Linked DNA regions of Homo sapiens: region 2 is linked to region 1. Evidence: fine-mapped expression QTL. A gene starts in region 1. The other region holds a variant in brackets. All regions are shown on one strand. Distances are between the middles of the regions. Region 1 holds the start of LINC02268 (long intergenic non-protein coding RNA 2268). Region 2 overlaps LINC02268 (long intergenic non-protein coding RNA 2268).

Region 1 (16,252 bases):
TCTTTCATCAGTTTCCCCTTTCTTTGACTCAGAATGTTTCTAATACTTCCACTTATTATTACATCAATTTATTAAAGTCTTAATGTAGCCAATCACGTTACAGGCAAGACCTGCTGTTCCAACATCATTCTGATGTACTTTGTGCTTTTCTCACTGTTTAAGGGAAATATCATTTCTCACATATTCAAGTTCAAATTTACCATAACCCCTAAGTACCTATGATACAACGATAAATTTAGAGCATTATTTTATATTACAGTGACATTTTAATTTTTAATATTTAAATAAGCATTTAAAGATGGCTTATGTTGTGCAAGAAAGGAACTTACTAGGTGTTGTGAAAGAGACAAAAATGAAGAAAACTACCCCTCATTATTAAGGACTTCAGTGGGAGGAAGGCAACCATAATACATCACATACAGTTCTGTAATACTTCATATATAGTATCACCACAATTTTTCAGAGGTCTGGAGGAGTTACGTGACTTTTGGAGGATCACATGACCATTTATAGGGACCAAGACAAACACTGACTCCCATGTGCCTTTTGTTTATTACTAACCTTAATGAATAGCAGAAGAAACGATGTTAAAAGATCTTTTTAAAAAAGTACTAGTATTTTAGAAAGAGTAGAGTAAGCAATTAATACCAACTGGCTTAGTGTGAAAGAATGAATGCTATTTCAGTAGGTATATTACCGACTGAGTTAATAACATGATCAAAGGCATGGAACCAAAAGCATATAAGGGTCATGAAATAGTGAATAATCTGCTAGAGTTGGAGGGTAAAGTGGGAGTGATGTGGAAGAAAAGCCTGGAAAATATAGTTTGAACAGACAGTAAGCTAAAATAGAGAGTCAGTACTTTATTGTGTAGGCAATTGGATATTTTTCAAGAAGAAAAGTATCATTTCTGATCTGTGTTTCAGAAAGATCTCTCTAATACATGAAGTAGAAATGCAATAGACTGTAGTCTAAGGAAATTAGTGAAGAGGCTACTATAATTACGCAAGTGAAATACAATGGAAATCTGAACTTTAGTACTGTCATTGGGAGTAGAAGTGATAGAAGCAAGATTTGAGATAAACTTTTGAAGTAAACCATTTTGGTGTACTACTGGCTGTTGGACGTGAAGATGAAGAAGTTAAAAACTACTCCAAATACTCTGAAGAAGGAGTTCTATTCTAGATGGAGGGAATGTCAGTGAAGGACACGTCTTCTTGGGTTGGGAGGAAGGTAGTGATGATGGGGAGGATGTAAGCAGGTGAGAATGAGTTCACTGTGGTCAATTTGAAGTATTCATAAGACAATTATGTGAAGGTATTCAGCTGTTAGTTGTATAGTGTTAAGATGGGAGATAAAGGCTAAGATACTGTTCTGGGAGAGTCCTCAGCATAGACATAGCAGAAGAAACTAGAGGAGTTGATATGCATTGTGATATTGTCATGAGCACTTAGCACAGTGCATGGCAAGCTGTAGGATCTAAATACGTGTTGTATGAACAAATTGATTTTGACAAGTGCTCTCAAATCAAGCATCCAAAAATCTCAAAGTACTTTAATAACATTCCTTGTATATAAAAAGTTACCATCCTGTCTCAATTTAAACAATCTTCCAGAATAAAAATTTTAAACTAAATAACCAAGGTGCACTCTGTTCAGAAAGGTTTCCTCCTGCCAGGACATGAAGTATTCTACTTAACAAATATTCTTTTTTAGCTGACAGACTGTATCTGACCCTTTAATTCGAAGTACCGAAAACTAAAACTTTAGCATGAAACCAAACCAAATTATATCTTACTCTGGTGATTAAGATGCATGCAAACCCAATCCTCAGCCAACCCCAAATGTTTCTTCTAGTCCTCAGAAACCCAGGTTTAGTTGTTTTCACACTTCACTGAGGTTTAGGATTGCAAGGCATCTTCTAAGTTTTGTCTCATTGCCCTTGATTCCTTGCTGTCTTATAATACAACTACAAGCCTCAAAAGAACCAAAACGAAGCTGTTCTCTTCCATCCTCACTGCCTTAGAATGTGTTGTGTTCTTAGCAGAAATGAGAAGAGGAGCCCTCTTCTTCTAGAGTTTAGGTGTAGTCTTGGAGACCCTCCTTACTCTCCTCCACTGATTCTGCCCTTGGCCCTCGGTGCCTAAGTTTCTCCTCTATGCCCTTCTCTGCATGCAAAACAAGCAGACATCTCTGGGTCACCAGCATCACCAATTTCTCAAACAGACCCACACTTAGCTTAGGACCACCCCAGTGCTCCTCAGCCTCTGCAGCCAGGCACCTGCCTCATAATTGGGGGACTATAGAGTTTATTGTCTAAACCAGGACACTTTTGAGAGTGCTAAAATGCTAAACCAGATGGTACTTCAGGACAAAAGGCATAAACTTAGGATGTGTGGTTACCCTACCCACGACTATAATACAATGTGATAAATGCAATAATAAAAGTTTAAACACTTTGCAATGGAGACATTTTGAATGTAACGCACCATGGGGTCAAAATTTGTTTCCAATCAAAAACATCACTAAATTATGTTCTAATCAGCATCCATGATAAAAACCATGGCGTTAAGCTTGGGATATTTGTATTATGCTGCACAGCAGAGCCCTGGCTCTGGGAGGAAATACTTTTCCAGCTTCTTGGGAATGTATTTTGTAGCTCAAAATTCCTGCAGGGGAGCTCATTTTGCAGTTTGGTCAATGCCATAAGGAAGCAAGTCTCAGAAATCTCTGAAAAAGTTGTAGAAATATTTCTTTGCAAAACTGATAATAAAAATCCAAATTATAGATCATATTTATCTTACATTTATTGTGCTAAGGGCTTTGTATTATTTAATTTATTTAGCCTGCAGAAGTATGCTCTGAGGAGATAAACATGACCATTTATAGAGGTCACAGGCTAGCGAGTCCTGGATCTACTGATTAATCTCGCTCTGTCTTTGCAGCCCTGAGAGGATAAGTGCTTTCCAAAGCAGAGGAGCAGTAAAGGCTGAGCCCGGGAGGCAGAAACAACATTGGTCCATGCACCATAAAATGTAAGCGCCATGAAAGAAGACACTGTTATATTCACTTCTCCATTCCCAGCACCTAAAAAAGCCACTAAAACATGATAAAGGTCAGGAAATATGTGAGGAAGGAAGGAACTCACAGAGGGAGATGGGTTTGGAAAAAAAAAAAAAAAGGCAGAAGCCGTATCTGGCAGGGCCTGGTAGGTAGTAGCAAAGAATCTGAATTCTATTTCAAGGGCAATAAAACATTACAGAAAGATTTTAAAAGAGGAGTCATGTGATGTGATGTATGTTTTTAAAACAATCATTCCTGACTGCTGCGTGAAGAGCGGGTAATAGGCTGGAGCAAGAGTGAAAGCCCGGAGTCCAGTTAGCAGGCATCTGAGGCTGTTCAGATGGAAGGTCATGAAGGCTTAGAACTGGGTGGCGGCAGTGGAGATACAGAGAACTGAGATGGTGCCATGGCTCATGCCTGTAATCCCAGGCCTTTGGGAGGCCGAGGTGGGAGAATTGCTTGAGCCCAGGAGTTCAAGACCAGGCTGGGCAACATAGTGAGACCCCCATCTCTACAAAAAATAAAAATATAAAAATGAGCTGGTTGTGGTAGTGCACACCTGTGGTCCCAGCTAGTCGGGAGGTTGAGGCGGGAGGATTGCTTGAGCCCGGGAGATTGAGGGTGCAGTGAGCTGAGATCACACTACTGCACCCCAGCCTGGGCGACAAAGGAAGACTGTGTCTCAAAAATAAATATATATATATATATCGCGAGAGAGAGAGAGAGAGAGAGAGAGAAAAGAGGGGAGGAGACGGGAGGGGAGGGGAGGGGAGAAGAGGGGAGGGGAGGGGAGAAAAGAGGAGAGAGGAGGGGAGAGGAGGGGAGGGGAGAAAAGAGGAGAGGGGAGGGGAGGGGAGGAGAGGGGAGGAGAGGGGAGGAGAGGGGAGGAGAGGGGAGGGGAGGAGAGGGGAAGGGAGGGGAGGGGAGGGGAGGGGAGGGGAGGGGAGGGGAGGGGAGGGGAGGAGAAGGGAGGGCCTGAGAACTCCTGGATTTTTGGCTTTAAAAACCGGACAGCTGCTAGTGCCCTTTACTGAAATGAGGAACACTGGGAAGGATAATGCTTAGAAAGAAATGCAAGGGAGTTTAGCCATTAATCTAGATAAATATAAAAACTAGTTAAGGATAAGATAACTGTTTATAATAACATATGAAGTAAAAACCCTAAATAAAATGTTTACAATAATTATAATTATGAAGAAAATGTATATTGAAAATTTTGAGTAGAAAATATGGTTACATGAAAACTTTGATGTATTGAGGAGTTATTGAGAAATTTGTGGTTTTAAAAAATTTTATTGAGTTCTGCTCTGCTTGTCATACTATTGTGAACTAAAAAGTAAAATTCTCGTAAAAGACAGTAAGTCTATGAGAAAAGCCTAAAATGATAGTAATCCAGAATAGAATTTCATCATAATAAAGTCATTAAAAAGTTGACATATTTTGTAATGGGAATTAAAAATAAAAACACTAAAAGCTCTATTTCTAGGTCCTGAAACCCAAAGCAGAATTATTGCAGTGAGGGTTGGGGGGAGGGTGGGTGAGATTTATTCCTTTGTTTAAACTAACTGAAGGTAAAATCCCTTTACATTTAAAATTGTATTAAGAATGGATTTTTTTTTTACTAGTAATACCTTGGCTTGATTACATTATGATCTATAAATACATTTTGTATGAATGACTTCTCCATGAAACAAATTGTAGTTATCAATCAGTAAATTTGTTAATTGAACTATGTGGAAGGCCCTGAGCTAAGCAGAACAGATATAAATTGGTGCTTGATTGTGTATTGAGAGGAATTGAGCCTGACTTAAAAGTTTTTCCCTAACTTCGAAAAATAGCTTCCCTACAACTCTGATAAATGGAAAACAACCACATCTATCAGAAACAACCCATATTTCCAATTTATGTATAAAATAATATATCCTTTGCTTATTCACAGCTGTTATCAAAACTCATGGCCAAATGTATAAACTCTGCTATGAGGCACACATTTTGAATGTGTTGAGAATTATCACAGCCAAAGTGAATATCTAAGGAGAAAAATTTCAGCTATAAACATTAAAATGTTAATGTTTTACTAATAATTATGTCCTTAGACACACAGTCTTGTTGGGGAGAACATTTTCACAAAGAAAAATATTTATCTCTAAAATCTCACTTTATTTATGTATTTTTAGAGAGTGGGGTCTTGCTATGCTTCCCAGGCTGCTCTTGACCTCCAGGGCTCAAGCAGTCCTCCTACCTTGGCCTCTCAAGTAGCTGGGACTACTGGTGAGTGCCACCATGCCTAGCTAATATCTCACTTTTGGATTAGAGGCTACTCATCTGAAAACAAAGATACAGATTTCATATGTTAGACAAGCACAGAAAAATCTCAAACTCTATATTTAAACAACCCTACAAGTGTTCTACATCCTGTATAAACCATTTTTCAAAGACGGAAAGATTTTTTTTCTTTAATCTCTTTGGGAGATCTAAAGATGCATAAAGATCCAATTTCATTGAGAGAAAGAACACAATTCTTTACCAAAGAAAAGGTGTGATTAAATGAAGTAATTGTGTTTCTTTGCTATAAATGTGAGATCTCACTTAAATGGTCTCTGAAAACAAAATACATGCATAAAGGCCCAATTTCACTGAGAAAAATATCACAATTCTTTTCCAAAGAAGAGGTCTGATTAAATGAAATAATTTTATTTCTTTGCTATAAATGTGAGATCTCACTTAAGTAGTCTCTGAAAATAAAATATATTCATAATTGCATGTATGTACATATGGGCATATGTGTTTGACTACTTATCAGCATGGATGTTATTGTAAGATGTTAGTGTTTTGGACACTAACCCCCCACATCAGCAAATCAAAGTGTGATATCTAAATTGATCTAGGTAAATTTGAATAAAATTGAACCAACGCTTTGTGGTCCTTCTGCAAAGCCAGATGTTCAGACCCTTAGGCAGATTTCATAATCCACACATCTGGGGGCACAGAGAAATATAGGGAGGAAAAGAGAAAAATCTCTTAAGGTAAGCTGGGGGATCTTGTAGATGGGCCACTAGGGAACACAGCTGGCTCTCTTCTTGAAGAGATGAGCCCCAAGCAAAGAATGCTTTGTAAAACTGAACACAGAGTGAATCCTGACCGTTAGCTATTAACTGTAGAGCTCAAAAAGAGACTTTACAAATATCATTACAAACAAAATATGGTGGAAATTTTCATAGAAAGCCACATTCTTTGTACCAAATTTTGCTCTGCAATAGGCAGTCACTTTTGCACACCTTGCCACCTAGTGGATAACCTGAAACCTACAGGATTTTTCCCCTTAATTTCCATGCTCTGCGGAAAAGTTCCCCAACTCTACCAAGGGAAGGTTATTTTGTTTGTTTTAGTCATTGGTGCTCCGAGAATTGTAGTAAACAGTCAACAAATAGTTGTTACATTAATAATAAACATTAAGTTGAGGCATACTTCATTTAAAAACTATTGTTATGGGGAATGTAATGGAAAAGATAGACAATATGATGTTGGCAAAATGTGTTTCCTAACTGAAATGAAAGTTTTGAATTATTTCAAAAGCAAATGCTGGGGGATCTATAGTTTCCTGTTAGAGATGTATCTACATAGCACATCAGGAAGAGGAGCCGGGCGCGGTGGCTCAGGCCTCTAATCTCTGCATTTTGGGAGGCCAAGGCAGGCGGATCACTTGAAGTCAGGAGTTCAAGACCAGCCTGGCCAAAATGGTGAAACCCCTGTCTCTACTAGAAACACCAAAATTAGCTGGTGTGGTGGTGGGCACCTTTAATCCCAGCTACTCAGAAGGCTGAGGCAGGAGAATCTCTTGAATCCGTGAAGTGGAGGCTGCAGTGAGCCGAGATCATGCCACTGCACTCCAGCCCGGGCAACTCCAGTCTGGTCAACAGAGTGAGACTCTGTCTCCAAACAAACAAACAAAAAACAAAACAAAAGCAAACAACAACAAAAAGAGATGTCATTATTGCTCTGTGTAGACAAATCATCCAGATAATTTAATTTAGCCATTGAGAGCCTACCCTTCTTTCTTCCAAGATATCCCAAATAAAACTAACTGTAAAAGCAAATATCCTTGCTCCTTTGTCTAGACACCATTGCTACTTTCATTCTTGCTTTGGGCTGTGATGCTTGCTACTCCCTTTTTCTGCTGTCCCAAATTATGAAGCCCTTTTATTCATTTAAAAAGAATACCTATGCATATGTATAAATATATATATATATTTTTCCTTTTTCTAAATAACATTTTATTCATTTTGACCATGTGACTCATTCGTATGGTCAATGAGCCCAAGGTGTTGATGACTCTTAAACATGTTTCTCCTAGCATAAATATTGGTGGCAAAAAGCAGAATAATGATCATAGTTTTGAAATAGAGAATACCATTAATGTCTTTGATTTTTGAAAATGATATTTTAAAAAACAAACATGACTATGTCGTGATACCTTAAAATTCAGGCTGAAAACAATTTATTAGGTAATCCACTTCAGGTTTCTTTTGCAGGAGGATTATTTTCCATTTTCTTATGGATTATTTTCCATTTTCTTGCTAAAATCAGCAAAACATATATACATATAACAATATACCACTAGTTCATTAAAAGAACTTATTCTTTTTGTTCTCAAATCAAGCTCATTTTAGATTGACAATATCTTAATGCATTTTAGGAATATATTGTCAAGATTAAAATCTTACTTTTTATTAGCTGAAGTTGTATATATTCATTATATAAAACTGACTTATGTTGCATAGAATTAAAACCCTCCCCAGAGTTCATAGTTTTAAACAAATATGCATACATATCCAAATACATATTAAATCCAAAGCAAACAATAACTTTATGTTGACAGTGAAAAATGCAACCTTACATACATAGTCTACAAAACAACTGAAAAATTTTAAATGCCAGATATGAGGAAGCCAAAGAATTTTAACAATGAGAAATATGTTATGAATTAAAATATTCAATCTTGAAAACCTTTAAAAGTGAAAGTTGCACTGTAACTGCTTTCTAAGGTAATTTTTGCCACTTTTAGGAAAAAAGATGTTTACGTAACATTTTTAAAAGTACAATCATTTCTTACATAGCTTTATGATTGAGGATAACATTAGTATGCACATACAACATAACACACAAAAGCAAAGCTTAGAATAACATTTTAATTATGTTTTAGTGTATGTGAAATAATTTGTTTTTCTCAATTATATTCCTGGGTCAAGGCCTAAAACATTTATTTGAACCAGCTATATATCTTATTTTCATAAGGGTCTCAGGAGGCAGTAGTCATATGTTGTTACTTCAGCCCTCCACAAAGGCAATACAGTACAGATCTCTGTACTGTAAACGACAACAAGGACCAGTCACAATTTCAGTTCTTGTTACATTGATAAGACTCCTTCAGGTAAGAGATTAAAACATGCCTTTATTATTATAAGGTTAGTGACCATTTTAATGGAATAAAAAGATTATTCCTGTTGCATTGGAGATAGGAAATTTGGGATGTGAATGTATGAGGTAGGTGTCTTTTCTCTCTTGTGCCTGTATTGTTCAAAAGCTCTTTGACATTAGAAAAAGGTTAGCTCTATAATCTTAATATTAATATTTAGTATAAAATCTATGGAGAACACACATTATACAGGGAGCCAAAAAGTTCAACTCTTTTTTTAATGGAGAGAAGGTAAGTAGGTGATCTTCACAGACTAAGAGGTTTTGCCTTTTAACACCAACAACATAATACTATTTATATTTGCTCTATCATTGTGATTAACCTACCTTCCCCTTCCAAAAAAACACACTTAGCTTACTCACCTAACAGTAATGACATATATCATTTTAAAAACAAAGAATAGTTTCAAAATTAATTTTTTCTACCTAATGTGCGTGACTGATGTTGAAAAGTTAGTGAGGGTTACCCATATATTCACACATGTAAATTGTGGAAATAAGAGAGAGAGAAAAAACTCAACAGATATAATCTGTAAAGCTGTCAAAAGACTTTCAAATAGCGAATTCCTTCAGATCATATATTTCAATAGAAGTTGCTGTTTAAATAGAGGTCTCTCATTTGGTGGGAGGAGCTTTTAAAAGAAAAAATACTTGAAGATAAGTAATATTACCTTTGCCATTTGTTATGAAATAAATATATCATGAGGAGTTATGCTTCATTAAAATGTAATACTTATAGATGACAGTTTCATATGGTCAGATATAAAATGTATATATGTTTTACCAGGAAGATTATACAGTATTTTTAATCTTGATTTTTCATGACTTCTTGCAAATATGCATTTATTGCTTTCCAAACCATGCCTGGGAATGAAGGAGAAAAAATTGTTTTATCCGAAGAGTTAGCTGTTCTTCCTTGGTTCAATCAGGAGTAAGTTCTGATATCATAGAGGGGAATGTATTAAGATAATTCCTAAAATATAACTGTGCTTTTACTGTTTTGCCTATGCTGCCAGAAAGTTAAAAACATTTTGTTTCAAATAACTGTGTATGTTTAAAAGTCAAACCTATTATTTGCTATATTATTTGTCATGTGCTATAATTTGACAGAGGGGCAATATTTCTCCAAAAAGTAAAATTTTATAACCAAAGGCCATCAATTGTACAAACGACTAAGAGAATTAAATTTTATTAAGTTGGAAATGTAATTTATTCATTGTAACTGTTTTAAGAGAAATTAAGTGAGCACTTTGTATGTAGTTATCTTAAATGTTACGTGTATTCTTTTAGAAACTCTTTCTTGTTTTCCTTCTTTTCACCTTCAGTGTCCTGGCACGCGACTAGCACAAATCAAACCTTATCTGTCATAATAAACTATAGCGTTGGAAATTCTAAAGAGACTAAAAATTACTTAACGTCTTTAACATATTTGAAGTAATATTTATGAATAAGGGAGGGCTGTCCATTTTTGAGTTTCGTCGCGCCAATGGTTGAGGGATTTTCTCATTATCATCTCCTGATTCCCAGAGAAGAAAGCCAGCCGCGTGGCCTTAGGACCCCTGGCCACCGGGAGTGGAGGAGCGGAGGGTCTGCCCCAGCTACCCCTGTGGCCACCGCCTCTCCCTCCAGGTGTGTGTGGGGAGGGGGCTGACAGAAGCAGGAGGCGACTTGCTGAAGTAGGGAGGCCAGACTGAATTTTTCCAGGATTCCGGGACCTTATCTCTAGGAAGCACTTAAGGACTTACTATCGCATTCTTTATCTCACTGTCTTCCGACTGCCAGGCTGGGTGCCCAAACTTTGGCGGCTTTTTCACAGTTTCAACGGCAAGGGTGGGAGTGGGGCTCGGGAGCTGGAGAGGAATGGCACGTTACGCCCCGTTCGGTTTCAAGGCCATGATTGCATCGCTCTCTGGAACGAAGATGGCCAGGAATTCGGGCAGGGAGAGGAACCACTCAATGGCAAAGTTGGTAGTAACGTCGTGAATTGTAAAGAGGGATAGCCCTCTCCTGCAGTCTCCAAGCAAAACCTTTTTCGCAACATGGGTGCCTGTCCAGCTTAATTCTTTGCTATCTTTCTTACTCGTGTTTTTGTTAGGGGACCGTTATAAAGTGAATTTTTGAACTGCTGGGTTGAGAAATAAACAGGGAAGGAACTGGGAAGATTCAAATTAGCTTCCACCGACCCTATTAGAGGTCCCTGGGCAGGAACCCCCCTGGCCACAAAATGTCCCGCAGGAGGTCTGCCTGGCGGAGGCGCTGCCTGGCGGAGGCGTGGGCTCAACCGAGTGGGCGCTACCACCGCTGGCTTCGGAGAAGCAGCCTGCGGAGAGCGGTAAACCGCAAGGGAAGCGCTTCAGGATCTGATTGCTTTTTAATAAAAAGATATGTTTGTAACCAGATGGAACCATTCTGGCTCCTTTATCGAGAGCGCAGCTTGGCCGCTTGCCTGGCCCTGGGGCTCTGGCCACAGCCTCTGCTGGGTTCTGGAGGAATTCAGATCTAAAAATAAATGATCGGGGATAATTCTTCCCCGAGGCGAACGGCTCGAACTCCCCTCCTCCACCCGCCACTGTCACAGCAATTCACCTTGAACTCTAAGGCGGATCGTTCCCACCTCCGCTCAAGGGGCCTGGACGCGGCGGTGGCTTTGCAGCCTCCTGCACCCGGAGCTCTGCTGGGCATGCTGCAGCCAGGACCCGCACCAGACTGCTCCAGGCGCCCTTAGGGTCCTGCCGGCTGGGTGGAAGTCAACACACTTTCAGTTAACCGAGGGGATTGAAATTGGATCCAATGAGGGAGGAAAAGCTGAAATCCCTGCTCTCTGGAGCTGTAGAGCACCAGGTGGGGAGACATTGCAGGTCAGAGGATAAGTCCTCTGCATTAACTGCGGCGCAGTTCCCTGTACGTCTAGCAAACTAGGTTTATGGTCTACGTGGGTCACAAGCGCATAAATCATTGTCAGCCCCGACAGTAGGTGCAGAGCTCTCTGCCTCGCTCTGGCCACACCAGCCTTTAGACAGGCTAACTGAGGGGGGGGCTCGGCGCGAAATTTCCCAGCCTAGAATATTTGCCTCGAATCTTTCTGTCCAAGTCTCCGAGACAGCTCCAGAATATGCGCTTGCCCTTTTGATAGACCCGCAAAGGGCGCGGTCTGGCAACCAAGCGCATCTGTTCACTATGGCCTAATGATTGTCCTGCAGTCAAAGAATCCAAGAGGGCATCATCTGATCTTATTTTATGCGTGAGGAAACCTGACGCTATCCAGGTTAAAGTGACATTGCACGAGGTCACACAAAGCTCTGGTAAAACTCCTTGATCCTAGGTTTCTTGATTCTCGCTCTCACACCTGGCCCCATCCATCGTCCTGCCTCAAATATCCACTGTGTTGTAGAGATACCAGGATCTGAGAATGCCTGTAGAGAAGGACTCATTATTTGTTGTCTTTGCAATTTACTAGTACAATTTTCAATATGATAATTTCCAAAGTCCCAGGAATGTACTTCAGATCTTCTTCCTCATTCTACCTCACAATTCACATAGGAGGAACCCCAGTGGCAGCCAGATATCGGGGTTTTAGACACCCAGCTGCTTCAGCCACTGAGCCCTGGGTTACCAGCACTTAAACAAGTCAAGAAAAGGAATTCCTCGCTGAGCCGGGAGGACTGGGAGAGATGGGGGCTCGGACTTAGAGAAACGCTGGAGAGAGACGAGTGGTCAGGCAATCAACTTTCACCTTCTCACAAGCTATTAGTAAAGGGACTGTTTTTTGTCCAGCAAACTCTCCCCTCAGGCATGCAGGGCTTGATGTTATCGTGATTACTTTTCGCTATTCACATTAATTATTTTAAGACAACACACACACACACACACACACACACACCTTCTCACTTAGAGTCAATGCCAACTTGAGCCATTTCAAATCGTTAGTCCTCTTTGTGAATGTGTTTGCATTTTTAAATCTGGGTTAGAAATTTGGCAGTCCCTCAATTATTCCTGAAGTGAAAAGGCCACAAAGTGGTCTCTTCCCTTCTTTTTTTCATTCAACTCTCTCTCTCTCTCTGTCTCTCTTTCTCTCTCTCTGTCCAGGAGTTGAAAAGAGAAACTCCAACCTTCAACTGTCAACTGTTTTCCAAACATCAGATTAATGTTCCCCAGGACTCGGTAGTAACGTGACCTTTCTGTTTTCAGATGTGTTTTTCAACATGTAATCGTTTGTTTGTTATGTCTCTCATATGGAATAAAGAAAGCTGGGGGAAGGAGTGTGGGCTGCCAGAGGCAGGAAAAAAAAAAAAAAAAAAAAGGATGTGGAGGCTGTTTTTGTTCCTTCTTCAAAATGCTCGAATCATTTTATTTTTAGGCAAGTAGTCCCCAAGGGAGGAAAATCTACAATACTCGTCCTGAAAAGAAATCCAAGCACTTGATGAGCAATTATTTAAACATAAACATCCCCAAAACAAAAATCTAATAAATTGATTTTAAAAAACATCTTGCAGGAGAGGAATTTCTGGGATGCAGGTAACGCTCTTTATCTTGATCTAAGAAATTCCATAAGAAGGTTTTAAAAAATAATTTATCAAACTTTTCATTTATGCCTCATGCCCGTTTTTGGACGGTTACACTTAAATTACCATTTTTTTTTTAATTTGAGAAAGGAAACCTCTAACGTGTGTATATTACTATATTCTACATCTTAGTTCTAATAAATTTCCAAACCAATATATTTATTAAACGATTAAGAACTTTGCCACTAACTTGTTTTCTGAGTAATAGGTTCTGAATCAAAGTGAAAACAGTATACTTGAATTAGTTATTCGAAAACCAGCATAATTATTTCATCACTTTCTAATATAGTAAAATGTCAAATATGCAATGAGTTTAAAGTTTGTTTTACGAAACCCCAAAGAAACCAAATAGTTATTTTGTTAAAAACAAAAGCTTTATACTTAAAAAAGAAAAAGTATTAAGTTGGTGCAAAAGTAAATGCGGTTTGTGTCATTTGAAAGTAATGGCAGAAACCGCAATTACTTTTGCACCAACCTAATATTAACTTTTTTTTGAGACTAACTCTTATTAGAAAACGTTTTATTCCAAAGAGGAATTTTAAAAAGCCATACTCAAAGGTGAATTTCTGCTACTAGAAAGATGCCAGTTTTAAACTCCTCCCCACCCCCATAAAATATTATTAGGCCGCTTTCATGGTTAGTGACTAAGCATTTTACCAAGAAACCAAAGACTAAATTGCTCCCCTCAATTAATCAACAGCTTTTATCTCCGGCATCAGCTTCACTAATGACCTCACTGCGGCCCTCCAATCCTTATTTTGTGCTTTCCCTTATCACCGTCTTCCAAATCACCCCAATATTTCTCCTGCCCCGTTCAAGTTAGAGGCATCATGATCCCCATCTAGAAAGCAATTTCCTGACGACTCGCTTAATTATCGCCCGCTCCCCCGCCCCCACCTTCCTAGCTCTACTTCCCTAATCGACCCTTTATCACCCGGGAACAATCGCTAAGCCTGAGCTGCCCACATGGAGGCTTCGCTGCTGCTTTACTTTACAGGCCCTTCCGCGGTTTTATGATTGGTTGCTGTGGTTGGAATGTTTATAGATAATAAACAACTAATCCATTTCTTGCCTAATGAATTGCCCCACCCGCGTACCAGTTTAACACCCGTAACTAGCTCCAGGATCAATCTGCGCCAGCGACCGAGGGGATGAGGGGGGCGAAACCACCCAGCCTCACTGCCGCTTAAAATCAAAGCCGAAGAACTCTAGGTCAGCAGACACCTATTTCCCATTTTCCAGTTCCTCTCCTCCGCGACCCCCCACCCTCAGCTAGGGCTCGGCGCCCACCTGCTCCTCTGCCCACGGTCGAAGGAGTGAATTTCAAAAGTGCTTTTCTTGGCTTCTAAAAATGTGAGAGGGCGATCCGCGAGCTTGGGCGCGCTGCCTGCGAGACTGGCGCGCCCACAGGAACCGGCACTCAGGTGACGGGCTGAAACTGGTGCCTGCAGCGACTGCTATTTTGGCCCAACCAGCCTCTTCAGGCTTCGGCGGTACACGCCCCGGGGGTAGTTACAGTCCTCCTGGCTCTGATGAGTCTCTGCCCGCGGAAGATCAAAAAGGCTGAGGTTGGCAAGGGCGTTCCTCCCGCACCCGACGGCTGAGAAGGAAGATGGGCAGGATAGGTAGTGGGGAGGGCACAATCTAGTTAACACTCGGAATCCTGTCTGAAATAAAGGAAAATGCATGTTCAGACTCCCAAGAGACCCGGAAAACGCGGAGGATCTGCCAAAAGCATTCCAAGAAGAGAAGAAACCAACGCCAGGGAGAGATTCTTTTATACACATTATGGCAGCTGCACATGGCTTCCGTCAGTAACTGGGGCCAGGGGGTGTGAGGACGGTGACCGGGAGCCAAGGAGAGGGCCACGGGAACCGAACACCGGAGTCCCTATGGTGTTGCGCTGTGGGAGTCCAATGTCTAGTCCTGGAGCCTCCGAGAGCGCGCTGGTGGTCCTTTGGGACCTTCCCTTTCGGTAAGGACCCAGAGGAGGGAAGTCGAATAGGAATGGAAACCCGAAAATCGCAGATAGGTTCGCTTACTAGAGCTGTTTCTAAAACCCACTTAACAGCCAGCTGAGCTTTCAGTGGAGAGACTTCCTTTACTTACACAGTAGTTTGAAAGTTCTGCAGTTTTGTGTTTATAGATTTAATTTTAGAAAGCTAATGTGTATGCCACCTTCCAACTGAGCCCCCTGTTCCAGGATATCTTCTTTCCAAGATCCCAGAGAAGGACCCTCAGAAGCACTCTCTGCGGCAACGCCCCCATCTTATTTACCTGTGATTTTACTTCCCTTTATTATAAAGAGTAGGCGAAGATGTCGTTGGGTCAGTACTTATTTTACCAGGTGGCCAATTCTTCCCAAAACTCTGGCAAAGAGCACTTTAACCCCTGTCTTTTCCTTCTTTCACTAATCTTGGCTGGGAAATTCCATTTTTCACCGGGGTGGGTGGGTGGGGTGCAGTGGGGATGGTAGTGTTGCTTCTAATGTTCTGTCATTCAATTCACAAATATTTACTTGATGCCTACTGTTTTAGACACTGGGGACACAGTTTAAAGACACACATGCACACAACAGTTTAAAGACACACATGTGCGCATACACACACACACACACACACACACACAGACCCTTTCCTAGAGCTTCCACTCTAGAAGGAGTCTCAGGTTAACATTAGGACTCACTTTGGGCTGGGAGCTGAGAGGATGTGATTTTTAACAGAAACGTAAGGAACAACGCCAATCATCTGGTCAAAACTTTTCTCTGTGTCACCTAAGAAGTATCTTCATTATGTGTAGTTTAAGTCATAGCCTTTCCACAATGTAATTGATGTGCTTAATAGCAGATAGCACTCTCCACACCTTTGTGCTCACAGAGGCTATTTTCATTGCTGGGGTGGGGGGTAAGATGAAGGGTACTCCAGGCCATTCTCAACTGGTGTTGGTCATTGTTCAACTTATGAAGTCAACAATTTCAGATTTTTAGTGTCCTGAAAATAATCTTGGCCCCCACATCTTCAGTAACACAATGCCGACTTCAAGACAAAAAGCAGGTTCTGTCCCTCACTGAGAGAGGGATTTTTCTCACTCCATCAGCACTGAGCTTGGATCTTTTACTTACCTGAGGTCTCATTCTCCTCCTCCTCTCTAGGG
Region 2 (16,252 bases), 98 kb after region 1:
TCAACACTGATATGAGGTCATAAACCTGAGCATGGACCTCCTGTTCCCCAAGCAGCAGCCTAATGAACAAAGCACCAAAATTTCCCAATAGTAAGTCAGAGAAGTAGAACCATGTCTTATTCAGCATCTATTGCAGTGTCTGGCACATGGTACATTTTCTTTTCTTTTGAGATGGAGTCTCACTCTGTCTCCCAGGCTGGAGGGCAGTGGCGCCATCTCAGCTCACTGCAACTTCCACCTCCTGGGTTCAAGTGATTCTCCTGCCTCAGCCTCCTGAGTAGCTGGGATTACAGGCGCGCACCACCATGCCTGGCTAATTTTTGTATTTTTAGTAGAGATGGGGTTTCACCATGTTGGTCAGGCTAGTCTTGAACTCCTGACCTCGTGATCTGCCTGCCTCAGCCTCCCAAAGTGCTGGGATTACAGACTTGAGCCACCACACCCGGCCACATGGTACATTTTCAATATGTTTCTGGCTCATTAGTGTATGAATAACGTAATTTCTTCATCTTTGTATCCCTTGAACGAGCTTAGTGCCCATAAGGGCTTATGTGAGATAATCAATATAACCACCTGTTAGACCCTCAGAACTATATGCAGTTCTCTTGGACCTCATGCTGTCCCACCTGTGTGCATTTTATTCCCCCTACCTGGAAGAAAGCAACTTTCCATGCCACCTTAACTTCTAAACATTATCCTACTCTCTGCTTCAGAAATTGCCCCCAAATTCACACTTTTTGAAACCTTATATTTTATTTGAAGGAAAATTAGAAAAATACACTTATTAATTAAGAAAATATTCCTAGACTGAGAATCACATGAAAGCAAGGACAAACCATTCAAATGGCCATTCGAGGTGGTGGCTCATGGCACTGCTAGCCCATGATGGGATGGCTGTGGTTGATCCATCCTTGCAGAGACACTATACTCTCCAGCTGCACAGAATGAAGATCTCGCTCACATCCCTCAAAACCCATGATGAGAACCAGAGGTTGATGGTAGACTCCTATGAGCACCTAATATTTGGTGAATGAGAAGAGTATACATCAGAAAAGAGGCCATGATACATGAAAATGGCCCATACTCCCCTAGACTTGGCATCTAGTGAACCCCAAAAGCCCTACATCATTAGAACCTCTTGAATTCTGCATATTTTCTCATTTATCTGGTCTTTCCTCTCTTAATTGTGTGACCTGTCTTATAGGACTGTTTCCCGATTGCTGCTTCAGCACCTTTGGTTGGTGCCTGGCTAGGGCCAAAGGCACACCACATGGATGATGGGCTTTGAGTAAGGAAGGACAATTAAAAGGAGGGTATTTCATTTGCTGAAGCAAGAGATAAAAGTCCAAGGACATTAGTGGGAATGGAGAGAAGTGGGCAGATTTGAGAGCATTTAGGAAGTGGTATCTACCTGGCACGGTATATTTTAGACCCAAATACACTGGTGTTAACTGAAACTTTAAAAAGCAAATGTTTCTTTTACAAAATTTTTGTTTTGAAATATTTTCAACTGAAGACAAAAGTAGAGAGAGTAGAACAATGAATCACATTTAATACCTTTTCCAGATTATGCAGTTAAGATTTTGCTACATTTGTTTTATCTATTTTTTTTAGTTGACGTTTAAAAAGAACTCAGTAATTATATCACTTTACCCCTCCATACTAATGCATATGGGTATAAGCACAATCTAACCAAATAAAAAGAAGAGTAATATCATATCTTTTAATATGCAGTCCATAATCAAATTTACCTGTCTGAAAAATGGCTGGAAATACAATTCATACAAGAACGGTGCAAAGGTAATTTATACATTTAAGTCAGCTTAAATCTTGATTTTCATATTTTAACAATGAAGATTTGGTGCTCTAGTTATTTCCTATGCTGCCTACAGGTTGTTTTGAGTTGTTTGGTTTTTCATTTATTTGCAGTATTACAGAAACATAAACTTTTAAAATGTATATGTATTCAATGTGTATTAATTGATTTCATTTACTTTTTTGATGCCCATGTTGTCCCAATTTTGGCCATTGGAAGCAGTTTTTCTTAATTAATGCTTATTATCTGAATATTTTCCTTTAATACAGATGGTGTGAATGTAAAATACAAAGCATTGTATATGACTACCATAGAACTTGGTTAAAGAAGAAACAGTGGGCTGGGCGCAGTGGCTCACGGCTGTAATCCCAGCGCTTTGGGAGGCCGAGGCAGGCGGATCACGAGGTCAGGAGTTCGAAACCAGCCTGGCCAGCATGGTGAAACCCCATCTCTACTAAAAATATAAAAATTAGCTGGGCGTGACGGCACACGCCTATAGTTCCAGATACTCCAGGGGCTGAGGCAGGAAAATCACTTGAACCCAGGAGGCGGAGTTTGTGGTGAGCCGAGATGGCACCACTGGCTCTCCAGCCTGGGCGACAGAGTGAGACTCCATCTCCAAAAAAAAAAAAAAAAATAAAAGAAGAAACAAGAAACAGTATGTTCCCCATGATCCACACATGATCCCAAACAATTTGTGATCATTATTTCAGCTTCAAAACTTTGTTAAGATTTTGATTAAAATTAAATAGTTCGGGCAGATAAAATAACCAATTTAAAATACTTTTGGATATTGTTACATTTGACAGTTCTAAGCTTTGTTAAGAAAATTTCCTACAAGATCTGATGTTCAATTTTTCCTAAAAAAAAATGGTGAGCTTCTATGTCTACAATCATGTCAGATGTTCTATACGAATCCCTTCTTTTGACCAAAGCTGCTAGTCTAGATATTCATTTTAGATAATCATTGTTTGATAAATCTATAAGAAGTAGAACGTGAAACCAAATTAAGCACAAAGGCCTGTGTAACTGGAGCCTCACCTTGCACTCTAAAAGTATAATTCATTTACTCCAAACAGTCCTCCTAATTCAGATACGCAAGATCCCCACTTTCTAAGTAACAGAAAGTTCATAAATCCACTCAAATCCCATCCCAGTTTCCAAGCCTTCCCTGTTAGCTGCCGAGTTCCATCGTAACTCTGATTGTCAATGGCAGTGGAGGGTAAAGGGCAGCTTAGTGGAGGTGTGTCTAAATCATGAGAGCCGGGTGTGGCTCCCAACTCCCCACATTGCCAGCATTCTGCCGCTCCCTGTAGAAACTCATCTTCAGAAGGTGAGATGCTCATTTCTTAACCTGATGTTCCATGAAAGGCATGCTAGGTTATGAGGCTAGGGCCCTGTGGTGTAAAGCTTTTTCAATTTCCTCTTGGCTGACAGTACAGATTTTGATGGGGGCAGGCCAGTGGCCCTAGGCACTGAGACACCTTTCTTGGTAGAAAGGATCACCTCCGCAGTTGTGGGGCTCCTCAGAGATCAGCAGCAGCTGAGTGTCTCCAGCAGGAGGTGTGGGTTACAGGAAAGTGGAAGGGGTGCTGCCAGCAGGGCAGCGTGTTCTCTGAGGTTTGGGAATGGAACTGTAGAGGCTGGGGGTGAGAGTGGACTGTGCTGGCTCTCTGATCTCTCGGCTCCTGATGGAACCAGAACAGCCCCAATTGCCATGGGTCTTCCAATAAGGTTATTTCCTTAGTTGCAAGTTCAGGTGAAGGGCTAATGCTTTCTGTGAGGCATGAATCCAAAAGGTTACAACTCCTGGTGATCAGCTTAAATTCACGACCATATTTCAGGTCACAAACTGGGCTCAGGGGTGCAGTGACTCCATATACTAATCTACGTCAGTCCCCCACAGACCCAAAGCCAACATCCCTGATGTCTCCTTGCTGATCAACTTAAAAAGTGGTGAGGAAGCATGGATTTTAAATGAGCATGATATAAAGTAGCTTGTTACACACTGCTTGAGGCTACTTGCCTTATACCTATTTTTCTAAGGAAGGTGAACCATCAGTACTGCAAACTGGAAAAACAGAACTATGAAAATTAAACTTCAAGGCAACATATTACAGCTATAATGCATGCTTTTCCCTTCACTAATTGAAATTTGACAAGCAATAGCAGATTTAGGGGGTAGATAGTGCTGCCTTTGTAACATTCTTTTATATCATTTCAGAGAATCATAAAGACTAAAGGTTAAAATGGAGAATTTAAAGGTTCTTTTCCATTTAAAATACTGGGGCAAAATGATATTTGTTCTTCAGGTCTAACATACACTCCATTTTATTTATTCAAAGATTAAAAATAGCTTTTCTAAATCAGGTAGTTGAATCATATGAAATTGCTGTTTTTGTAAGGCAAAAATAGTTAAATTGTGGCAATTTCATAGTTCAACTCACATATGGACACCATATTTATTTACTAGCCCAAAAGTTATGAATACATGGTTTGATGCCATCTTTTTCTTAATAAAGCTTACTTGAATTTATTTAATTAAATGAAAGTTTAAAATAAAACATTTTATTAAAAGATGACATTATATAAAAATAAAAGAAAAATACATCTGATATATATCAGCCATAATATGTGACTCATTTAGGTGCTGTTGAAATTGATGGCCTATTGTGCTGTTTTTCATTATTTGGAGGACTCGGCAGCTCAGTGAAGCTCCATTCTTTTCAGTGATTTCAAATATTTCTTGGCATGTCTCTGCAAAACTCATTTTTACGGTTCTATCAGGCCCTGGTGACTTTTTGACCCTTCTCACTACCTCTGATTGTAAAATTAATGAGCAATTACTTTTGATCATTGGATTCTTAACAGGCACTGAAAGGGAAAGGTGTCTATTTTTTCATGTTTGGGATCTTGATTTTCTCTCAATGAAAATTGTTGATTATCTTCAACCATACCAACCATAGATGCTTATACTTTGTTTCATTCAGAAAACAATTTTTCATGATGTCATGATTTGGAGGAGTAGCATTTCTTAAAAAGGGTATTGTATGGCTAAGGTTTCCAAAGTTTCTATTCCTTCTCTTAATTACTCCATTCAAGGCTGTTTTTTTTCCTACCTGAATCTAGGCCAGGAGGTATTGTGGTCAGTTTTACAGAGCACTAGATGAGTGTTGCCCAATGTAGCTGTGTGCGGTGATGAAAATGTTCTTCATCTTTGCTGCCCAGTACAGTAGCCATGAGCCACATGTGGCTACTAAGCACTTGAAATATGGCTTGAGTGAATGAGGAACTAAATTTTTCATTTCATTTCATTAATTTAAATTTATATTCATATAGTCACATGTAACACAGCAAAATGCACAAGGCAAAAAAGTGAGGATCCCTCTAAGTGCAATCAACTACGTCCACTGGCTTCGGAATTGACTGTATGTGAAAAAATACAGTGGGAGAAGTAAGTACCCTCTGATCTATTGTCAGAGGGGCTTATGCTCCCAGTTTTCTACTCAGTTTATTTACCTTCAAAACGTTTCTGACTATGAAGGATTCATTTTAATATCTGGTCAGAAAAGGGCATGATTCATTTGACTGGAACATGTGAAACTCAACAGAATGTAAGAGCGTAAATTGTAAAGGAGTAGTACTGACTTAGAAAAGAGATGTTATGCATATCATCGGCCTTGATTTCATTATCTAAAATGCAATGGTTGGCTTAAATGGCTTTTAATGTTTCTTCTAACTGTAAGATATAGTGTATTAGAATGAGATAGTAGAGTCAGTTACCTGCCTGTTCTCTTCCTTAGTATACTCTCTGCATGCTCCAGCAACTCTACCCCAAATAGAGAATAGATTGAAAGGATCTATTCCTTTCAAGCCTGGAGGCAAGAGGACCATCTAAGGTGCTGGGCAATAACATGTGTGAAAGAATTTTGGGGATGGGGGCGTTGAACTAGGAAACTGTGGCAAAGGGGATGGTATTAAGTGGAAAGACTCAGGAAATGTTTAGGAGATGGGTAAGCAGGACTTGTGAAGGGTTTGGTGTTTAGGCAGGGATGGGAAGAGTAAAGAGGAGAGATAAATATGCCACTATGTTTCTGGCTTGTTCAATTTTATGAATGGTAATGCCATTTAAATATTGGAGGAAGTGCAGATTCTGAGGAGGGAAATAACAAAATTTTGCTTTAGAGATCTTAATTTTTGGGTATCTGTTGAAGATAGAGAAAGAGAAAATTCTAGGATGGAGACACAGATTTAGGATTTATTAGCATGTTAAGATGGTATGCAAAGCATTAAGCATCAGTGGACTTACATAAGGAGAGAAGAGAGAGACAAGTGAGAAGAAAGCTGAGTGCAGGAACACTAGCAAGGAAGAGATGCATGCAGAAGGAAACTCCTAAAAAGGAGCTGAGAAGAAGGGGATGGAGAAATAGGAGGCAGAAAAGTGAGATTGGTGAGGAGTCCATCGTAGTCAGGAGTTAAATAACATTCTCAAGCTTCTGTCTTGGAGGCTTCATTTTTGTTCCCCCAACCAAGATTAAGAATAAGCGGGGGAGGAAGGGGACATGGATGGGATGTAGAAAATTAGTGCTTTGTTTTGGACTCATCAAGCTCCAGGTTTGTGAGACATACAAATAGAGCCATGAATATTTGGATCCCCAGATAAAATGAATCTTGGTCCTATAGTAAAAAATATGGCGAAATATACCCTTGATTTAAAAATATTTTGTTGGGACCTTACCATGACATTCTTTACATTGTCTGGAATATCGTATCTATCTCTATTGTCACATTTCTTAAGTTATCTTGAGTAAAACTACAATCCCTCTCACATAAATAGATACACATACTAACAAACAAACAACCAAAACACACTCCTGGTGAAGCACAGAAAATGTTTTTCTTTGTAGAAGCTGAAATCAGGAACTTGGGGTCTGACAGATCCAGGTTTGAGTACCAGCTCTGCCACTTACATACAGAGTGACCTTGGGCAAGTCAGTCCCTCCAGTCCAGGCTAGTAATATTCAATATTACAGGGTGTTTGTGAGAATGAAATTAGGTGACATATGAAAATGATCTAGCATGGTAATTTGCACCTGATCAATGCTCGGTAAATAGTGACTATTATTATTATTTAAAAATCATCAGGCACAAAATTGTAATTCTTTACACTTGCCTTAATTACCTCCACATTTCATCATGACAGTTATATTTTCTACCACCCTGCTGCACTCTTTAAACTCCTTCCAGTATTAGCATCATTCTGTGCACAACAAACTCAAGAGTTTATCCACATGTACAATTTGTTTTGGGGAGAAATACTATCTGTGGATGACAGTGGAAGGTTAAGATTGCAGAGGAGATAGAAGGAAACAATAAATATCACCATGTCTTCGGCTTGTCTTCAAGCTGTGGACAATCCAATTGAGGAATCAACAAGTGCTCTTTCCTTTAAAGTTCTAAAAATATTTGACAAAGCAATGCATCCACAAGCAACCTAATGTCAGACAAGCTAGCTACTAGTTGGATAGAAAAGTGTGAAATGGCTCCCTTCCTTCCATATTAAACTTGCTGATGCCTTAATAAACACCACCCCCCAAGATTGCTGTTCATTCAGCTTTGTCTAGAAATCCAGTGACTGTAATCACTTCATTATTTCCTCCAACATCTGGAAGGATATGTGGATATAGACCATTATCAGAAAGATGATTTTACTGAAAAATAATCTTAATGTTTGCTTATTATAAAGATGCATAGAATCTGGAAAGTGCTGCCAAGTGTTTTTCCATCACAGCACCTTTTAGTTCAGAGAGTTCACTTCAAACAGAAGTCAAGGGGCCATTCTCCTGTTTTTTTCTACCCATCTGCCTACTCCATCCCTTGCTCCAAGGTCCTGGCTTCTGTTTAGTAACATGCTAAGGTCAAAGGCTCTGAGACTTTTATTCTTGGCTCCATTTATAGGAATAGATAAATTCATCCTAGGAACAAGCTCAGGTTGTCTTTGGAGATTTTTCCAGAGTGAACTATTCGAACAGTAAAAATATCAATGACAATGAAACAAACATCTTTCTCTAAATTTTACCATGTCTAATTGTTTAACTTCAGTGTGTCATTATGCTAAAAGTTCTTCCTTACTATGGGTGAAGAAGGGAAGGAATGAAGTGTTTGAAGGAAATTTAAAATTTTGTCCTGCCACATAATACGCTGGAAATGAAGGGAATAACATCCTCTGATTCTTGCCTCTGGCCTCACTGAAGAGACTTCCTAGCTGTTGCCCAGCTATCAGAAGTGTTTCATAACAGTATGAAAAGAATTTTGTTGTCCATACTCTAAAAAAAGCATGAGGAAAGCAATGTTTTGTAATAGTTCCAAATGAAGTAGAGGCTGCTCCCTTTGTGACACTCTACTATTGAGAATCCACAGCTCCTTAGCAATGAGACATAGGAGGAAGATAGACTCATCTGGTCCCAGTATTAATAATGCACTGTTTAAATTAACACAGTACATTCAGTTCAATCAA[G/A]GGTGTTAAAGTGCCTACTATATGCTAGTCATAGTAGTAAGTCCTAAGTTTAACAAAGAAAAGGTCCCTGCCTGCTGTAATTAACAGTCTAGTGAGATAGAAAGACAAGTAAACATATCATTTAAAGGCTTAAATAGAGGTGTTATAAGGTACTGCGTGAAAAAATGAAGTGTTTGGATATGTTTGTATGCATGTCTTTGGGGGAGGTTGGAGGCTTAAAGGATGTCTGGACAATGTTAAGAAGGGAGTTGAACAAAGAAACAAATACATTGATAAGCATGTTCTAGAAAATTCTCTCTCTTATATTTGTGAGTTTGCATCAGGGGAATGTCAGCAATATTTACCATGAATCTAATTGCCAGTCCCTCTGTGTGTTCATAGAATGCTAATGTGTGTACTATCCCATTCCTATGCTTGACCCATTTATTTTCTAATCTCCAGTTTGGAGAAGGAAATACTAATTTTACCCCAAGCATAATTTCATCTGTGACACACTGTGTTGTCAACAGTGAAGATGCAATCTGGGTAGAGAATATAACCTTAAGACAGTCTTCTTAGAGCAAATAAACATGTTCTTGCATTAACCACTTATTCTCTTTGGAGAGCTAATTACTCTTCCCTCAGCTGGCTGGGGCTGAGGGTGAGGGGCAAGGCTTTGCTGCAGAGAAAGTCAAATATCTGACTAAAAAGACTTTTCATCTATGTATCTGATACTTTTTAAACAATTTGCATCAGCTAAGTGTTATGGGTTTTCCATCACATTTGGAATAATGAAAATATTATGGCTGGGCACGGTGGCTTACACCTGTAATCCCAGCACTTTTGGAGGCCGAGGTGGGTGGATCACGAGGTCAGGAGTTCGAGACCAGCCTGGCCAACATGGTGAAACCCAGTCTCCACTAAAAATACAAAAAATTAGCCGGGCGTGGTGGTGGGCACCTGTAATTCCAGCCACTCGGGAGGCTGAGGCAGGGGAATCACTTGAAGCCAGGAGGCAGAGGTGGAAGTGAGCCAAGACTGCACCATTGCACTCCAGCCTAGGCAACAGTGTGAGACTCCATCTCAAAAAGTAAATAAATAAATACATAAAATAAAATAAATAAAAAAGAAAATCTTATATTTTAAGAAAATTTTATTTCTTTTTGAATTAAAACAAAATGTTCACACTTTAGTCGCTAAGTTACAAGGACAGATTAGTTAGTAGGAGATTATGTATTCTGGATAGCCCAGATTAATTGTTGCTTTTAATGCCCTTTCTAAATCTGATTCACAGATGTATATCATTATGGATGTATATTATTAGTGAGAGTGGGAGAAAGGGGCAATTATACTTCACAATGTCTGAAAAATATTGCTACATAATTCCAAACTATTTCTTTTTCTCTTGGAGGAATACTTTACTTGATTTCAAAGGGGAATTTGTGGACATTCACGTAAGTTAGAAAAATACATCACAAATATGCACCACTGCAGTTCACAGAAGTTAAGAATTGTAATCTAGGGACTCTCAGCAGCAGACATCCAATAATGCAAAGCAGTAATAAAGAAAGGCTTGCAATGAAGCACGGACTCTGTAAAATGTGACTGGAATGAGGCTGAAAGTGTAGAAGGCATGTTGTGTCATCCGGCGTTTAATCAGTGAAGATGGTGGCCTGACTTTGTCACAAGGAACTGCATTAGATAAGAGTACCCTGATTATGTGGTCTATTGCATACTTTGAAACATGGAATTGAAGAGCTAAGAGTTCATCTATTCTGGCCCTTTATGGAGGAAACTGAGCTCCAGGGTGGTTAAGTGACCTGGTCGAAAGAGAAGGAAAGATATCCTGCTTCTGACTTCAGGGCTCTTTAAAGTTCATCATATTTCTTAATGCCATTGGTGGATGAAAAATTAAAACATAGACCTGGTATTTACATTTTAACTACTGTGTAGTTTGCCAAATCAAGATTCCACTATGTTAATGAATTCATCTGATTTTCTAAAGAAAGGCAAAGTCGCTTTGTCGAGTTAAAAGGAATCAACTTAATTTCCGCCACTAGGTGGCATGATGCATTTTTTTTCCCCCTCTGGACACTTTTTGAAAAGGAATCTATCCCTCTCCCTACACCACACACACACACGCACGCACGCACACACACGCACGCACGCGCACACACACACGCGCACACACACGCACACGCCCGCGCACACACTCTCTCACACACACACAGAGATTGGAGAGAGACAGGAGAGAGACATGTTTTCATCTATCCTTTGTGGACTTCTGTTGTTTTTACTGCTGTGAAATTTGACTTGCGATATCTGCTTGTAAAACATCATCAAATCCAAATTCATTATATTCCACTTTTTCTATTACATGGTTTCTGCTTCACTGATTCATATCTGTTTTACCTATTCTGTAAGGGAGGAGAAGCTGCGTTAGGTTTCATCTCTTGTTTAAGTTCAGTTTAATAAATAGTAGATAATGCCTCTTCTCTTTTTTCCTTTTGAAGAGGAGAAAAAGGAAAGAATTGTAGTTGATTCTTATGTAGCAACTTATTCATTCATTCAGTAGCTATAGAAGCGAATTGTTTTGTAGGTAATTATTAACGATGCTTTGGATAATTCCCTAGCTAACTATTCCTTCTTTTCCATCCCAGAAAGCAATGAAGAGAAAAGCTGAAGTCAGTGATTAGGAGTGTCTGTGTAAGTAAAAGCAACAGGCAATTACTGAGTGTGGTGTGAGAGGCACGGAAAGATTGGGAATTCAGCAAGAAGAGGAATTGAAGTCAAACCTCACCTACTTCCCAGAGTCTTCTGGATTTTCTGTTAGAAGCTTCAGTATCTGAGGTAAGGAAAAGAAACTGCAGGACTTACAGAATATACCCTTTCCTTTCCATCCTCTGTATTACTTAATAGGTATTTTGCTTTGTTTTCATTTTTTCATTCCTCCTCTTATCTTCTGCCTTAATTTTCAACTCCATATTACTAAGTGGCATGGTTTTCAAGTTTTCTGTACAGTGTTTTACTATTTTAAATAAAAAAAAATTTTTAGTTTTAAATTGATTTATTTTTCTTTTAAAATTTTAGATTCAGGGGCTACACATGCAGGTTTCTGACATTGAACCCATCACCCAAATAGTGAACATAGTACCCAAAGGAAGTTTTGCAACCCTTGCCCTCTTCCTCCCTCCACACTTTTGAAGTCCCCAGAGTCTACTAAGAAACATCTTTTAGAAAGTAAACAAGCAAATACTTTTGTGGAAGAGCCAGACACTTCAAATGAATTTTGTTCTCAATCCCATCAACATGGGTTTTTAAAAACACTAATACACAGAATCACTCCTGACCAATGGATTCATCATCTCTGGGGCTGAAGGAGGGGCAATTGTATCTTTTCAAAGATCTCCAAAATATCTTGATGTACCCTGAGAATGGAGACTTTCTGAAATGCAGCAATATGCCATGTGTCATTTTTTTCCCTTTAACCAGCATCCTGGTCTTGCGCCATTTTCCTAGTGACTCATGCTTGAAACACAGCCATCTTGGTTCTCCCCTCTGTTGTTCTTGTGTGTAGTTAGTTCCTAAGTTCCGCGTCTTTCATCTCACTAATGTTTTATATCTTTCCACTTTGTCACATCGCCATTACCATCACCCCAATTCAAAGTTTCCCACCTTTCTCTTTTCAACACAGATGTATTTGACTTCTTTTTCCGATGTTTAAATTTACAATTTTTGTTACACTTTGGAATCGCAAAATAACAAGAGAAAAAACATTAGGAGAGGAGAAAGTGATATTATCATGAATAATAAAACTCTTGTTTCATGTGTAGCACAAATGAAAATCACCCCCAAATCTTTTTCTTCAAAAGGAAGGAAAATCAGCATCTGAGAGGGTTGAAAAATAAGTTCATTTTTTTCCCTTGCAAAGTTACTGAATTGCCACCTACTGGTTTTACTATAAGAGTAAGAGCTATATATCTCTTGTTCATCATTGTATCCCTGGGAAAAGCAAAATGTCTTGTTTTATTAATTAAAATTTTATTAGTTGCAAGTAACAGGAGCCATCCTGACATAGCTTATACAAAACAGGTAATGTATAGTTAAGCTATAGAGCACAGTGGTAGAATTCAGGCTGGTCTAAGGAAATAATTGCAGACAGGCCATGGAGAGGCTTCAGGGTTTTACGTTTTGGGGGTGCTTATTTTATTTTTCCTCTTTGCTCTATACTTTTTTGGGCTTCTTAGGTCAATGTGGCATTACATAGCTGCCAATGCTTTCAAGTAGGTAGAGTACAATTTCAGTCATGAGCTAGGATGAACTAGCTATTTCCTAGCAACTTGCCTGGGGACCGGATCTAACTGGCCCAGCTTGAGTGAGATAATGTACTCTGGTCAAGTCAGCCACAAGCTTAGGCACTGAGACTATTGTCGAAGGTCACCCCTTACGAATGGGGAGTTAATGTGAGCTGGGAAGATATCCCAAAGGTGTCTAATGCACTGACAAATGGCAAAGATGCAACAGATATTTTGGATAAATAAATGAATAAAATAATAAATGAATGAACCAAGAGACTGTTAGTTTTGGGTAGCATAATAAACTCAGATTGACAGATAAAGAGCAATTCATTAGGCATCTACTTATTACCAGAGGCTGTAAGGAATAAAAGCTGAAAAAAAAGAGGAGTTCCTGACTTTAAGGAACTTGTCAGAAGAGGTATCATTAACAAATAAGGAGAATATAGGCAGTGACAAGAAAAACACAAAATATTATGTATATTCTGTCAACTGAGAGATCATAATTTTACTTACATTAGTTAAGATATTGTCAGCTGCTGAGGAACTGAGAAATCTCAGTGGATAAACACAGTATAATATTTTATGCTATGTAAAGTTCAATAGGACGGAGGGCTGGGTTTGGGGTTTGGGGTGAACAGGAGGGCAGGATCTACCGCATGGAGCCATCAGGAACCCCAGAACTACCACCTCCAGCACGGACTTCCGCCACGATCATACTGCCAATCAAATGCAGCCAGCACAGTGAAAGGAAATACCCATACAGAGGGTATAACTACTTCTGCGGACAGCCCATTGGTCAGTCTACTTTCACATGGCCATACCTTACTAAAAAAGAAAGCCGGGGACTGTAATCTTGCCGCATCCAGGGAGAAAGGCAGTAGTGTTTTGGGAATTGCTAGCCAGTGACCACTATAGCAGCATTGTAGTTATGGCAGAGTGGGTGGGGGAGGAATAATTTTTAAAAAATTATGGAAGAAATGCTATAGTTAGACCATCTTTGAGGTGTAGGTCTTAACTGTTGGAAAGAGAACAGCAATTTTTGAAAGAAAAAAGTAATGTAGGCAAAGATCTGGAGTTGGGGAATAACTATGTTTTAGGAGTGTTGAATATGAAATAGCTGTCTTGAAAGTATGATAAGAACTGAAAAGGTAGTTATCTTTATTTGGCTATTTCTTTTGAACATATCTTTCTATTAACTTCAGCACATCAGTTTATTTTTCCAGGAAGTGGATTTTGGTTAAAAATTATGCTGATAAATAGTGAGGAGAAACAAAAGTTTGGAGGAAAAGTAATAAAAACTTGATATAAGTATCTATACTATTTCTTGTCTTCCTATTCTGACCTTCTGCATTCTAAATTGAAACAACCACTCTAATTTTCTTTGTAAAATATCAAGTTGGCTTGAAAATTGTGTGTAACAGCAATACAAATGTAGTTTTCAAAAGCGGGGTTTAAATCAATAAATATTAATATATTTTTATTTTTATTCCCTGCATCTCTTCTTTCTTAAATCAAATATATTCAGACTAATGTATTCATATGTTAATATTATTTTTTTCTGGGATGGCATTAATTTCAACTAAATATCTTAAGAGAGTAATGGGAGGGTTTTTTCCTTCTTGTTCAGAATTTCTTTTAAATCCGACATCTGGTATTTGGCACTTGACTTTTACTAGACCAATTGAGCACTTTTAAAGGGGAATAAATCATATGACTTTCATTTTAATTTTTACTGTAATGGTTTAATGCAGCCAACATATGCTGAGTAATAGTATTAAAATAAAATCAGTAAATGAGGGATTAAAATTTGCCTGAGTTCAGTTTTGCAAAGACACTAATTAGAGAAAGGTTTTTCAGATCAGAATTGGATAAGCCAGCAATTTTTTAAAATTGTAATAATATACTGAGAAATATTTGGGTTTGAGCATGCTGTTATTGAGAAGGAAAAATTACAAGGGAAATTAACACCTTTGCTCTAATGCGAGGCTGTGGGGTGAATCTGGGAACCCTTGCATGCCCGTTTCTCCACTGCCAGAAAGTATCCAGACAAACACTGAAGACCAATCCACATTTGCTTATTTTAAACAGAGATACTAACTTGAAAACTGGAAATATTTGAGTTGGACTAAGCAGGATGGAGATTTCTTGACATCATAAGGAGCATTCATTTAAATTTCTCATTTCAGAAACTTGAATACTAGAAAGGCTTTCTATCCCACGCCTTACTTTTTGGCAGCCAGCCAGTTATTTTCTATGGTTCTAGTTATTGGGGTACGAAACAGTTTGCAGAATTAAGTTAGAATTTTATTTATAGCTTTGAAACGTCTAGCTAAATGTTCCTAAATATGGTACTTCTTGGTAAACAAATAAAAGCGAAATTATTTCTACATCAAAATTGAGCAAGGAGAAAATTAATGGGCAGTATTTAGCAGTTTCTTTAAATTTCCTTCAGTTATGAATAGCATAAATAAGAAAATTAAATGGGTTAGTCTTACTACAGAGACCTTAATTCTAAATACTTTGGGTTCATATATATGACCAATTTAATTAAAGGAGGTTTTGACCAGCAACCTAAAACATGCCATATCATACTATAAGAAATGGGTTTTCTGACTTGTTAGATAATCTGGAAAGGTGTTGTTCTGATTAAAAGGATAAAAGGCTTTTCTGTTCTGTGAGGTATAAAAAGGAATTCTTTCAATATCATGAATAGAACCACTCATGTCACGTTCACTTAGTGGTTTTCAATAAATAAGGAACATGATTGGTTGCACTTTGCTATTTTTAGACATTCACTGTAGTATAATTTCTTTATATTACAGAAATCCAGAACAGGATAAATCAAATCACCGGTTCAGTGTGCTAAATTAGCATATTCAGCTCTTGAAGAATTTATGGAAAACGGCTTTCAAAATGCAAGCATGTCTTTGTTCTCTTATATTTCTTCAAACCAGTCTCTCATTCATTTCCAAATATCTAACATTTCAGATTCATTTTTGCTTTCATTTTTTGCTCTCTCCTTTTCTAGACAATGCCAAGCAGACTGGGTAATATAGGAGAAATCTCAAGAAGTACCATGAAGTAATGCTCATCTCAAGACTTCTGCTGTTTGCCAATTTTATTTCTTTTCTTCTTATTGAGATAGTAATTCCCACTATGAGATTCATTAGAAATCAGGCATTAAGGTTGGAGTCTTTCCTTAAAAGATATTAATATACACAATAAGAAAGGAGGTATTGAGGCTGGTGTGTTTCTTCTGTTTTTCAACTTCTTTTTTTTTTTTTTGAGACAGGGTCTCACTCTGTCATCCAGGTTGGAGTGCAGTGGCACAATCTTGGCTCACTGCAGCATCCTCCTCTCAGGCTCAAGCAATCCTCCCATCTCAGCCTCCCAAGTAGCTGGGACCATAGGCCTGCGCCACCACACCTGGCTACATTTTTTGTATTTTTGATAGAGACGGGGTTTCACCATGTTGAGCAGGCTGGTCTCAAACTCCTGAGCTCAAGCGATCCACCTGCCTCGGCCTCCCAAAGTGCTGGGTGTCTTTCAACTTTTCTATTACTTTTTGTTTGTATATTACTCTTGGTGAAACAAAAAAAATTGTAAATTGTAATATATGTTATTTGTCCTCAGGAGTTTATC

Evidence for each region. PIP is the estimated chance that this variant, and not a neighbour inherited with it, causes the effect.
Region 2: its variant is fine-mapped to the expression of LINC02268 in prefrontal cortex (BrainSeq, PIP 0.93).

What each region holds. Positions count from the first base shown.
Region 1 is chr4:174,212,555-174,228,806 of GRCh38, reverse strand. It overlaps LINC02268 (long intergenic non-protein coding RNA 2268), which reads left to right and starts at 8,409. Exons shown (of 5, transcript NR_125896.1): 1 at 8,409-8,493. RefSeq lists enhancers at 13,671-14,331, 14,442-14,501.
Region 2 is chr4:174,114,807-174,131,058 of GRCh38, reverse strand. LINC02268 (long intergenic non-protein coding RNA 2268) reads left to right here. Exons shown (of 5, transcript NR_125896.1): 2 at 10,973-11,162. Among named protein-coding and RNA genes, the nearest start is that of LINC02268, 97 kb to the left of the region's middle. The variant G/A (reference allele first, on the strand shown) is at 8,334.